Linked DNA regions of Homo sapiens. The protein of the gene in region 2 purifies or fractionates together with the protein of the main gene of each other region. This does not show direct contact. Each region holds a gene or a part of one and is shown on either strand. Other genes may lie near its edges.

Evidence for each region.
Region 1: the proteins of E2F2 (region 2) and NBR1 purify together in Homo sapiens (affinity purification with western blotting, with the first as the bait; one study listed by BioGRID). This does not show direct contact.
Region 3: the proteins of E2F2 (region 2) and L3MBTL3 purify together in Homo sapiens (co-immunoprecipitation; one study listed by IntAct). This does not show direct contact.

The regions. Positions count from the first base shown.
Region 1 is NC_000017.11:43,177,707-43,181,358, reverse strand, and holds part of NBR1 (next to BRCA1 gene 1 protein), read right to left. Parts: intron 3,424-3,652; coding exon 3,361-3,423; intron 1,966-3,360; coding exon 1,947-1,965; intron 565-1,946; coding exon 542-564; intron 1-541. UniProt on the Homo sapiens protein: Ubiquitin-binding autophagy adapter that participates in different processes including host defense or intracellular homeostasis.
Region 2 is NC_000001.11:23,517,601-23,521,252, forward strand, and holds part of E2F2 (transcription factor E2F2), read right to left. Parts: intron 3,472-3,652; coding exon 3,313-3,471; intron 1,531-3,312; coding exon 1,416-1,530; intron 1-1,415. UniProt on the Homo sapiens protein: Transcription activator that binds DNA cooperatively with DP proteins through the E2 recognition site, 5'-TTTC[CG]CGC-3' found in the promoter region of a number of genes whose products are involved in cell cycle regulation or in DNA replication.
Region 3 is NC_000006.12:130,053,071-130,056,722, reverse strand, and holds part of L3MBTL3 (lethal(3)malignant brain tumor-like protein 3), read right to left. Parts: intron 1,553-3,652; coding exon 1,468-1,552; intron 1-1,467. UniProt on the Homo sapiens protein: Is a negative regulator of Notch target genes expression, required for RBPJ-mediated transcriptional repression. It recruits KDM1A to Notch-responsive elements and promotes KDM1A-mediated H3K4me demethylation.

The DNA.
Region 1 (3,652 bases), on a different chromosome or scaffold from region 2:
AGCACAAAGACCAGCAAAGAGATGGGACTGTAACTGAGAAGGACCTTTTTATTATGAATTGCCTTTTGCTGAGTGTCGTGCCCATTCATCAGTCTCCCTATAAACAGGTTTCACTGTGTTTATACGTACTAGTCTCTCCCCATAACTAATGGAATTCAGGTTTGAGTTTCAGTCAATAAATATTTTAGGCCAGACGCAGTGGCTCATGCCTATAATCCCAGCACTTGGGAGGCCAAGGCCAGCAGATTGCTTGAGCCCAAGAGTTCCAGACCAGCCTGGGAAACATGGTGAAACCCTGTCTCTAAGAAAAATATAAAAAGTTAGCCGGGCGTGGTGACGTGTTTCTGTAGTTCCAGCTACTCGGGAGGCTGAGGTGGGAGGATCACTTAAGCCTGGGAGGTGAAGACTGCAGCAACCCCAGATTGTGCCACTGCACACCAGCCTGGATGACAGAGCACAACCTCATCTCAAAAAAAGAAAAAAAACCAACCCATAATAATATTTTTTAAATTATTTAAAAATGAGATTAAATAATCATTACCTTAAGCGCTTCTTCATATTCTCCTAAAAGAACAAAAAATATACACCATGATACTTCTTCACACACCCCAAAAGATTCTATTATTTTAAAATTATTTTTATTTTGTACACATCCATTCATTCATTCAAGAACCAAAGATTCCATAAGATTAAGGATAGCCAATCCTAAAGATGGACTGTACAACATGAGGAACATATTATAGTTAAATAATCGTAAATTATATTCATGATTTTTGCTAAATGAGTAGATTATGGCTGGTTTCTGGGGAGGGCTCAGGGCACCACAGGGCCACTATAATGAGATGATAGATATGTTAATTTGCTTCACTACAGTAACCATTGCCACATAACATTTTGGTCAACCATGTGTATGATGGTGATCCCATAAGATTATAATGCCACATTTTTACTGTACCTTTTCTATGTTTAGATATGCAAATACCATTGTGTTTCAACTGTCTATAGTATACAGCACAGTAACATGCTCTACAGGTTCGCAGCCTATAAGCAATAGGTTATACCATATATCCTAGGTGTGTACTAGGCTATACCATCTAGGTTTGTGTAAGTACACTCTATGATGTCCATATAATGACAAAATCACCTAATTGATGCATTTCTCAGTACAAATCTCTGTCATTAAGCGATGCATTACTGTATATGTATTTCATAACATCATGTTGTGCACCTTCAATATATACAATAAAAATTTGTTAAATGTACAGCTAATCCTGACTTTAAAGAATTCTTAGCTTATTATATATGAACAGCAACTATCTTTTTGCTGACAAACTCCCTTTTTGTTGCAAACAGCATCTACTGTAGATCAGTTCTTCCCCTTAAATCCCTCCTTCATCACTACTGGGAATCTTCCAGTTACAAAATCTCAACCCAGGTCCCTCACATTTACGCACTGAGAGTTCAATGTTAATACTATCATTTCACCTGATTAAATTAAGATTTTAGGGGCTATCGTGGGAAACTAATCTTCAACTATAACATGGTTCCTATGGGAAAATGCACTCCAAGCTCTGAACATCTGATAAATAAACTTTTGGAATACCACTTGTTTTATAAGTTGATATTAACATATATACCAAGTCAGAAACAAATGCAACACCATGGGAATACTTATATGTGTTGAACTGGGAGGCATATTAATTTCAGAGGACTGGCATCTTAAATATGAGAACCTCCCATTAAAGCTGTCCTTAGGGTCCATTCAAAGGCATCATCCTATATATAAAAAACTGCTATACAATAAAATCCCCTAGGTAACTAATGTCCATCAGTGCAATGTCACTCTAAAATTAATACTGCAATAAGGTTTGAGTATAAATAGAAATGCCTCAATGAGCAGATTAAGGTTTTTAAACAAGGCTGAACAGACTCTCTTAGGGACTCACCTTGACTGTTGATGGATACCTATAAAAGGAAAAAAAGCAACAGTGAATTATAAGTGTCTCATCAGTTGAGCATTTCTGTTACTAGGACCAGCCCCATAGGACAGACAAAAACTCAGGCCAAGCGTTCAGCTTTTCCATATCACTTGCTAGTCATGAATAACACTTAAGAAATTTTATTGCTTATCTACTGTGCCCTCCTTTATTTCAGATACATTAAAAGGCAGTGCAATATAACAGTTAGGAGCTTGAGTTCTACAGCCAGAGGGTATGGACTGAACGGCTACTTTACTACTTCCAAGTTTTTGTGCATTTGGACAAGTTATTTTCACCTCTCTGTGCCTCAGTTTCCTCATGAGTAAAATAGTGATGATAATAATGTACTCAATACATGGTACTGTGGCTAGTCTGACACACTGTAACCACTCAATAAAGCTTAGCCATTAGCCTGAGCAACAAAGTGAGATTCCATCCCTCCAAAGAATTAAAAAATTTTGCCAGATGCAGAGAGGTATGTCCTAGCTACCCAGAAGGCTGAGATGGGAGGATTCCTTGAACCCAGGAGCTCTAGGTTGCAGCAAGCTATGCCAATGCACACCAGCCTGGGCAACAGAGTGAGACCCTCTTTAAAAAAAAAAAAAAAAAAAGCTTAGCCATTATATTTGTATTATTATAAACTAAGTGGTAGCTTGTGCTATATGTGAACTTAAGGTCACTATATAATTTTAAAAGTTATCTTGGCCAGGTGTGGTAGCTCACAACTGTAATCCCAGCACTTTGGGAGTCCGAGGTGGGCTGATCGCTTGAGCCCAGGAGTTCGAGACCAGCTTGGCCAACATGGTGAAATACCGTCTCTACTAAAAATACAAAAATTAGCCAGGCGTGGTGGTATACACCTGTAATCCCAGCTACTCAGAAGGCTGAGACAGGAGAATCACTTGAACCCAGGAGCTGGAGGTTGCAGTGAGCAGAGATCGCACCACTGCACTCCAGCCTAGGTTATGGAGTGAGGCTTCATCTCACAAAAAAAAAAAAAGAAAAAAAAAAAAGGTTCTCTCAGGCCAGGCCAGGCATGGTGGGTGTCTCACACCTATAATCCCAGCACTTTGGGAGGCTGAGGTGGGAGGACTGCTTGGGCCCAGGAGTTCAAGACTGGCCTGAGCAACATAGTGAGACCCTGTTTCCTTTTTTTTTTTTTAAGTGAAAGTTATCTCTGAGATATTCTTCAGTGTTGCTTCTCCATTTCTCAACTCCATCTCAGATGCTGCAAGTCTTCTTAGAATATTCAGTTATCAAATATATTTAAACCACCACACAAATAAGCTAAACACTATTTTGAATTATTAAAGCCCATATCACTGGAGAAATAAGATCCCTATTCTGAACACCTAGCAATAAGTGCCATAATATATTTTACCTCTTCATTTTCCTCATCCAGGTATTTTATTTGAATAGTATTCAGATCAAATGAAACTTTTACCTATAAAAGAGATACATATTTAAAGGCAGGTTATAATGTACACAGAAGTCAAAGTAAAAAAAACCCACAAAATCAAAAGACAAACAACAAACAACCTTAATAACCCATAACAAAGGGTTAATATCTGCAACACACCCAGAGTACCAGCAAAACTGCTAATGATACAATTAACAACCCAGGTAAAAATATACATAAAATTCATACAAGAGGAAATCAGAACACCTAACAA
Region 2 (3,652 bases):
TGGGCAAGGGATACAAGGTGAGTAGAACATTCTCTTGTGAAGCTTACACCCTAATAGATGAAGCAGAATGCAATCGTGTAATCATGCCAAATATACCTCAGCAAATGGAGATTAAATTAAAGGCAGCGGAAAAGCACAGGTGTTTATGAAGTCTGGAGGTAATCAGAGAAGGCTTCCTTGAGGAAGTGACATTTGAGTTGAGACCTGTAGGATGAATAGCGGTAAATCAGGCAGAGAGGGAAGAACATTTCAGCTCGAGGGGAAGAGCATGTATGAGGGTCTTGCACGGCTAGGTGCGGTGGTTCACGCCTATAATCCCAGCACTTTGGGAGGCCAAGGCGGGCAAATCACTTCTATGCCGAAGTTCAAGACCAGCCTGGACAACGTGGCAAAACCTCGTCTCTACAAAAAAAACAAAAAATGTGCTAGGCATGGTGGCATGCACCTGTGGTCCCAGCTACTCAGGAGGGTGAGGTGGGAGGATGGCTTGAACCCGGGAGGCAGAGGTTGCAGTGAGCTGAGATCATGCCACTGCACTCCAGCCTGGGTGACAGAGCAAGACGCTGTCTTAAAAAAAATCAAATAGGTTGAGTGTGGTGGCTCATGCCTGTAATCCCAGCACTTTGGGAGGCCGAGGCAGGTGGATCATGAGGTCAGGAGTTCAAGACCAGCCTGACCAACATGGTGAAACCCCATCTCTACTAAAAAAAAAATACAAAACTTAGCCGGGAGTAGTGGCGGGCATCTGTAATCTCAGCTACTTGGGAGGCTGAGGCAGGAGAATCGCTTCAACCCAGGAGGCGGAGATTGCAGTCAGCCAAGATTGTGTCACTGCACTCCAGCCTGGGCAACAGAGTGAGACTCTGTCTCAAAAATAAATAAATAAATAAATAAATAAATCAAACAAAACAGAAGATCTCATACTAGGAATGAGCTTAGTGCAATGGGGAAACTGCAGACAGGTCAGTGTGGCCAAAACAAAGACAGATGGGGCAGCGGGGAAAAGGAGGTTGGCAACGTCAGCTGGGGTCTCAGAGCACCGAAGCCTCATAGGGAGTGTCAGGAATTTTGGTCTTTAACCTGGGAAAGCACGGTCAGCATGAAAGGATTTTCATGAGTATTGACACCGTCATACGTGGGCATGAGTGTGCATGTGCGCAGGAACCCAGGGCTGGTGGGATGCAGAAAGAAACCAGGAACAGAGATTTTCTCAGGCCACTACTCAGTCTCCGTTGCCCTTTCCAGCTTCTGCCATTTCTGCCCAAGCTTGAAGGCCACCAATATTGCCATGGACACCACAATGGGCCTGCAAAGCATGGGGCTAGGCAGTGCCAGGGACAGAGTCTGCAGAGCCGCCTGGAACGCTCCCTGGCAGGGTCTCAACCCTGCTCTCCACCAAATATTTCCCCTCTCACCTCAGTCCTGTCGGGCACTTCCAGTCTCGTCTGCGGAGGGGCCTTGACGGCAATCACTGTCTGCTCCTTAAAGTTGCCAACAGCACGGATATCCTGGTAAGTCACATAGGCCAGCGTAGGGCAGGAGAGTCAAGAAAAGTGACTGTCTGGTCAAAATTCAAACCCCAAACCTGCCAGGGAGCACCTTCACCCACCTCTCCTAAGCCTCTGAACATTACTTTCTCACTCCTTGTACAACTTAGAAATAATACAATCTGTAACCTGTTAATCTCATAAGCTACCTTAGATCCCTTTGGAAAGCAAATGGGAATATAAATCATAAAAAATGTTGCCTTACATTATAAATCATAAAAAATGTTGCCTTATGTAAAGGCTTCATCTCTCAAACTAGATCATTAGCTCTGAGAAGGCAGGAAGATGTGTTTTATTTCTTTATATTTCTCACAATGCCTAGCATCCTTCCAAAAATACAAGGTCAGATCCAAAACCAATTAGATATGAAATGATTTTGGAAAATGTATGAAAGAGCCTTAGCAAAGTCCATGCTCTTTGACCTCATCATTTCAATCCTAGGGATCTGACCTAGGAAACAAGTAAAAATATGGGAAAGCATTCTATGTATAAAGATATTCGGCCGAACGCGGCGGCTCATGCCTGTAATCCTAGCACTTTGGGAGGCTGAGGCGGGTGGATAACTTGAGGTCAGGAATTCAAGACCAGCCTGGCCAACATGGTGAAACTCCATCTCCACTAAAAATACAAAAATCAGCTGGGTGTGAAGGCCGGGTGCGGTATCTCACTCCTGTAACCCTAGCACTTACGAAGGCTGAGGTGGGTGGATCACCTGAGGTCAGGAGTTCGAGACCAGCCTGACCAACATGGTGAAACCCCGTCTCTACATAAAATACAAAAATTAGCCGGGTGTGGTGGCAGGCGCCTGTAATCTCAGCTACTTGGAAGGCTGAGGCAGGAGAATCGCTTGAACCCAGGGGGCAGAGGTTGCAGTGAGCCAAGATCATGGCACTGCACTCCAGCCTGGGCAGCAATAGTAAGACTCCATCTCAAAAAAAAAAAAAAAAAATTAGCCAGGCATGGTGGCGGGCACCTGTAATCCCAGCTACTTAGGAGGCTGAGGCAGGAGAGTCACTAGAACCCAGGAGGTGGAGGTTGCAGCGAGCCGAGATTGTGCCACTGCACTCCATCCTGGGCAAGAGTGAGACTCTGTCTCAAAAAAAAAAAAAAAAAAAAAAAAAAAAAAAAAAGCTATGTTCAGCAGGCACACAACTACATTACAACTATATTGAAATAAAACACATTCTGTGTGCAGTTCAAGAACAATGGCTATGTTAAGGTGGCAGCTCATCATTCTTTTTCTCCGTTTTCCAGATTTAAAGAAATTTACTTGGCTTATTTTCAATAATGAAAAAATACCTTTAATAAACTTGAGGCCAGGCACAGTGACTCATGCCTGTAATCTCAGCACTTTGGGAGACTGAGGCAGGAGGATCGACTGAAGCCAAGAGTTAGAGACCAGCCTGGGCAACAAAGCGAGACCCTGTCTATACAAAAAATAAAGAATTAGCCAGGCATGGTGGCACATGACTGTAGTTCCAGCTATTCAGGAGGCTGCGGTGGGAGGATCACTTGAACCCAGGAGGGCGAGGCTATAGCGAGCTATGATCATGCCATTGTACTACAGCCTGGATGACGGAATGAGTCCTTGTCTCTAAAAAAAATAAATAAATAATTTTAAAAATAGACTTGAGAAGAAAAGCCACCCAGGAAGGAAGAAACAGATGCCAGACCCTTAGGGTAAGTTACTGAATCAACTCAGGATAGATATAAACATGCAACAGGTTCCTGCTCCCTGACACCTTCCCCCAACCAAGGAGGATATCTCTTGTTGGCCTTGTCCTCAGTCAGGTGCTTGAAGCTCAGAGAGCAGCTCTGGATGAGCTGGTCCAAGGCCTGCTCCGTGTTCATCAGCTCCTTCAGCTCCTGCCCCAGCTGTTGCTGCTTCCCAGGTCTGGTGGGGTCTTCAAACATTCCCCTGCCTCTGGGAACAGAGCAGCCCCCCAGTGTCAGTCTGTGGGTGAAACTCCAGAACAAGGTCATTCAAAAAATAGTCTATGAGGGTGCTTCCCTGGGTTGTGGAAATCAGTGGTCATGCCTGTCTCTCAGGGAGCTACCAGGGATTGGAACCAGAGGTTTGGGGGTTGGGCTTGGGAGAAAAAACA
Region 3 (3,652 bases), on a different chromosome or scaffold from region 2:
GGGGCCTGGAAGTTCATCTGAGGTGAAAAAGAAGGGCAGGGGAAATGATGGTGAAAGAAACAGACATTTGGAGGCAGAGTGCAGAGGAACTGAGGAATTTACACCCTTCATCTCAGTGATGTAAAATAGAAGGTCATCTCTGAAAAGACACAAAAGTTAAGCTGTGTGCCTAGGGCAGGTGGGGCTATTTCCAGTTTTTTGAGGAATTAACAGAACAAGGCTAGAATGCACCCCGGCACTGAGGAGAAGCACCTGGTTCATGGCCCTGGTTTGTCGGGACAGTATGACTGACTGTGCAGGCTGCAAGCTGAGGCAGGCAAGGGGATAGAGCCTTGTGGGGGACATCCCCCAGGGCCTCTATGGAAGTGACCCAAGGTCCACACAGAATAAGCAGAAAAGTACATCAAGACAAATACTAAAGGGAAGGGCTTCAGGGCCGGTTTCCTCCTGGAAATAAAATGCTGCCTGAGGAACAATGAAACAAACAAAAAAAAGGGCCAGGCACAGTGGCTCATGCCTGTAATCCCAGCACTTTGGGAGGTAGACACGGGCAGATGGCTTGAGGTCAGGAGTTCGAGACCAGCCTGGCCAATATGATGAAACCCCATCTCTACTAAAAATACAAAAATTAGCCAGGCTTGGTGGTGCACACCTGTAATCCCAGCTACTTGGGAGGCTGTGGCAGGGGAATCACGTGAACCCAGGAGGTGGAGGCTGCTGTGAGCCGAGATTGCGCCACCATACTTCAGCCTGGGTGACAGAGTGAGAATCCATCTCGAAAAGAGAGGGGAGGGGAGGGGAGGGAAGGGAAGGGGAGGGGACAGAAGGGAAGGGAAGGGAAGAGAAGACAGAAGAGATGAAAAGAGAAGGCAAAAAACAGGTTCCACGCCAGGAGCTCATGTTTTGAGAGGGAACATTAAAAACCTAAAACTGTGGGAAATGAACAAGAACAGAGGTTTTATAGAGAAGCAGAGGCAGGAAACACCTACTTGATGAGGGGAACAGAGAGAGAGAGAGAGAGAAAGAGAGAGGGAGAGAGGGATGGAGGGAGGGAGAGAGAGGGAGGGAGGGAGAGAGAGGGAGGGAGGGAGGGAGGGAGACAGGGAGAGGCGGAGACAGAGAGGGAGGGAGAGAGGGAGAGAAGGAGGGAGGGAGAAAGGGAGGGAGAGAGGGAGACAGGGAGGGAGAGAGGGAGAGAGGCAGGGAGAGAGGCAGGGAGAGAGGGAGGGAGAGAGGGAGGGAGAGAGGGAGGGAGGAAGACAGTTCTCATGCTTACCCTGAAACCACTTGAAAGTTAAGAATTTTCATTTTTTTCCTTATCCTCAAAATCTCAAATCTTTATTGACCAAACTGAATCAAAGAAAATCCTGAAGTAATACTTTAAGTGGCATGACTAAAATTTCCACCTGTGTGAACCATTTCCAATTTCATAAAGTTACAAGTAAGACTTTATTTTCATCAGCTCACCCTGCTTTAGTACAGCCGAATCCCCTCGTCTTTTCCTCCGTGCTCTCTGCGAACCCCTCAGGATTCTTACATCTTGTTTGTTCTCCTACAAAAAGAAAGGAAAATTATGACTTTAAAGTTCAAGAAATTGGCACCAGTGAATAGTTAGAGAGCTATCAGAAAGCACTTTTTCTGTTGTTCTTTTCTTCAGTTTTACTTTGTAACTTTTAAGGAAAGTAAGAATATAGTTCATCTGAAAACTGTTGCTTTTGGCCTGAGGTTATTACAAAATAAGACTGTATCCACGTGTTACCGGTTGGAAGGGCATGGACACCGCTCCCCGCTCCTTGAAACACTTTCTGCTCTCAGCTGCGTGACCGCTCTGCTCTGATTTTCCTCACGCCTTACTGGCTCCTCTTTGTCTCCTCTGCTGATGTCTCCTCCAATCCAGTTCCCTTCTCTACTCTTTCTAGTCCCTTTCCCTGGGTTTTCAAGGTCATCTTACATAGGCCAGATACTCCCAATCCACACCCTCAGCTTCCTCTTCCTTACTCCATGTGGCTGTAGACAAATGCCTACTTGGGATCTTCACCTGGATGGTTAATCAGCATTTCAAACCCATCATGGCCAAAGGACTCTGTGTTCTGCACTCCACCCTCATCTTCCCATTCTCAGTAAGAGACAGGATTATCCAGCCAATTGTTAAAGCCAAAGTTTTATCCCTGATTTTTCTCTTTTCCTCACACACTCTGACAACCCTACCTCTAACATTGATTCCCAAATCCACGGACTTCCATCATCTTCAGCCTTCTTACGTTGTCTACTGCAATAAACTCCTAACTGGTTTCCCTGATTCCACTCAGGGCTACAGTGGTCATTTAAAACATACATCATATCAAAGCATTCCCTTGTCTTAACTTTCCAGAGGCTTCCCCTGACACTCAGAATACAATGAACACCCTCGACTCTTGTTTACCATAAAACCCTACATGCCCTGGACCACAGGTACCTCTTCAACTTCATCTTACTCCACCCTCTCCTAAACCAGTGACCAGACTTCCTTTTATTTCCTCGAACAAAACATGCTGTGCAAGTTCTTACCTTAAGGACTTTCCTCTGGAAGTTCTACTACCCAGAAGACGCCTCACTCTCAACTTCACATAGCTGACTCCTCTTCATTCATCAGATCACACTGTTCATGCCATCGTCTTTGAGAGGGCTCCCTGACAACCCAACCTAAAGTAGTCAGCCAATCCTAATGCCCTATTTTAATTCTCAACGTAGCACTTATCACTAGGTGACATTTCTCCTGTTCATTTTGTTTGTAGATTAACTACCCCCTAAACAAGAATGCAGTGTCTCTGCCAGGAGAGACTCTATGTCATCTATTTGTCTTATGCATCCCTGTATTCTCAGCTCCTAGAACAGTGACTCCCAAGTAACAGTTGTACAATACCGATCTCAACGGAAACACTTCCAGATCTCAAAGTTCCCTTTTCCTATAAAACCATTAATAGATGCCTTTAGGAATATGATATTTATGTTTTAATTCACACATTTTGAATGGCTTTTCCCCAAATATACCTGATATTTGTGTGCCATTTTTTAACCACTCAGATAGTTTTTTTTGTTTTTTTTTTTTGAGACACAGTCTCGCTCTGTCGCCCAGGCTGGAGTGCAGTGGTGCAATCTCAGCTCATTGCAAGCTCCACCTCCCAGGTTCACGCCATTCTCCTGCCTCAGCCTCCCGAGTAGCTGGGACTACAGGAGCCTGCCACCACGCCTACCTAATTTTTTGTATTTTTAGTAAGGAAGGGGTTTCACCGGGTTAGCCAGGATGGTCTCGATCTCCCGACCTCGTGATCTGCCGGCCTCGGCCTCCCAAAGTGCTGGGATTACAGGCATGAGCCACCACGCCCAGCCCACTCAGATAGTTTTATGAGATCTGTCTGCAATTTAAAGAAATGAGATTGGCATTGTGTTGTCAAGAGGAATTTAAGATTCATCTACAAGACTGAAGGTTTTTAAATGTTCCCTTTCACCCTAGCACTAAATTTCAGGACATCCCACTTTTTCACCCTGAGAGAAGGATACTATTGTTTATGATTCCCATTTTGAGATCAGGACAGCAAGGCACACAGAGGCCATGTAACTTACTGACACTAACACAGATAGTCCTGGAACCCACATTTGAACTCAGTGGGCT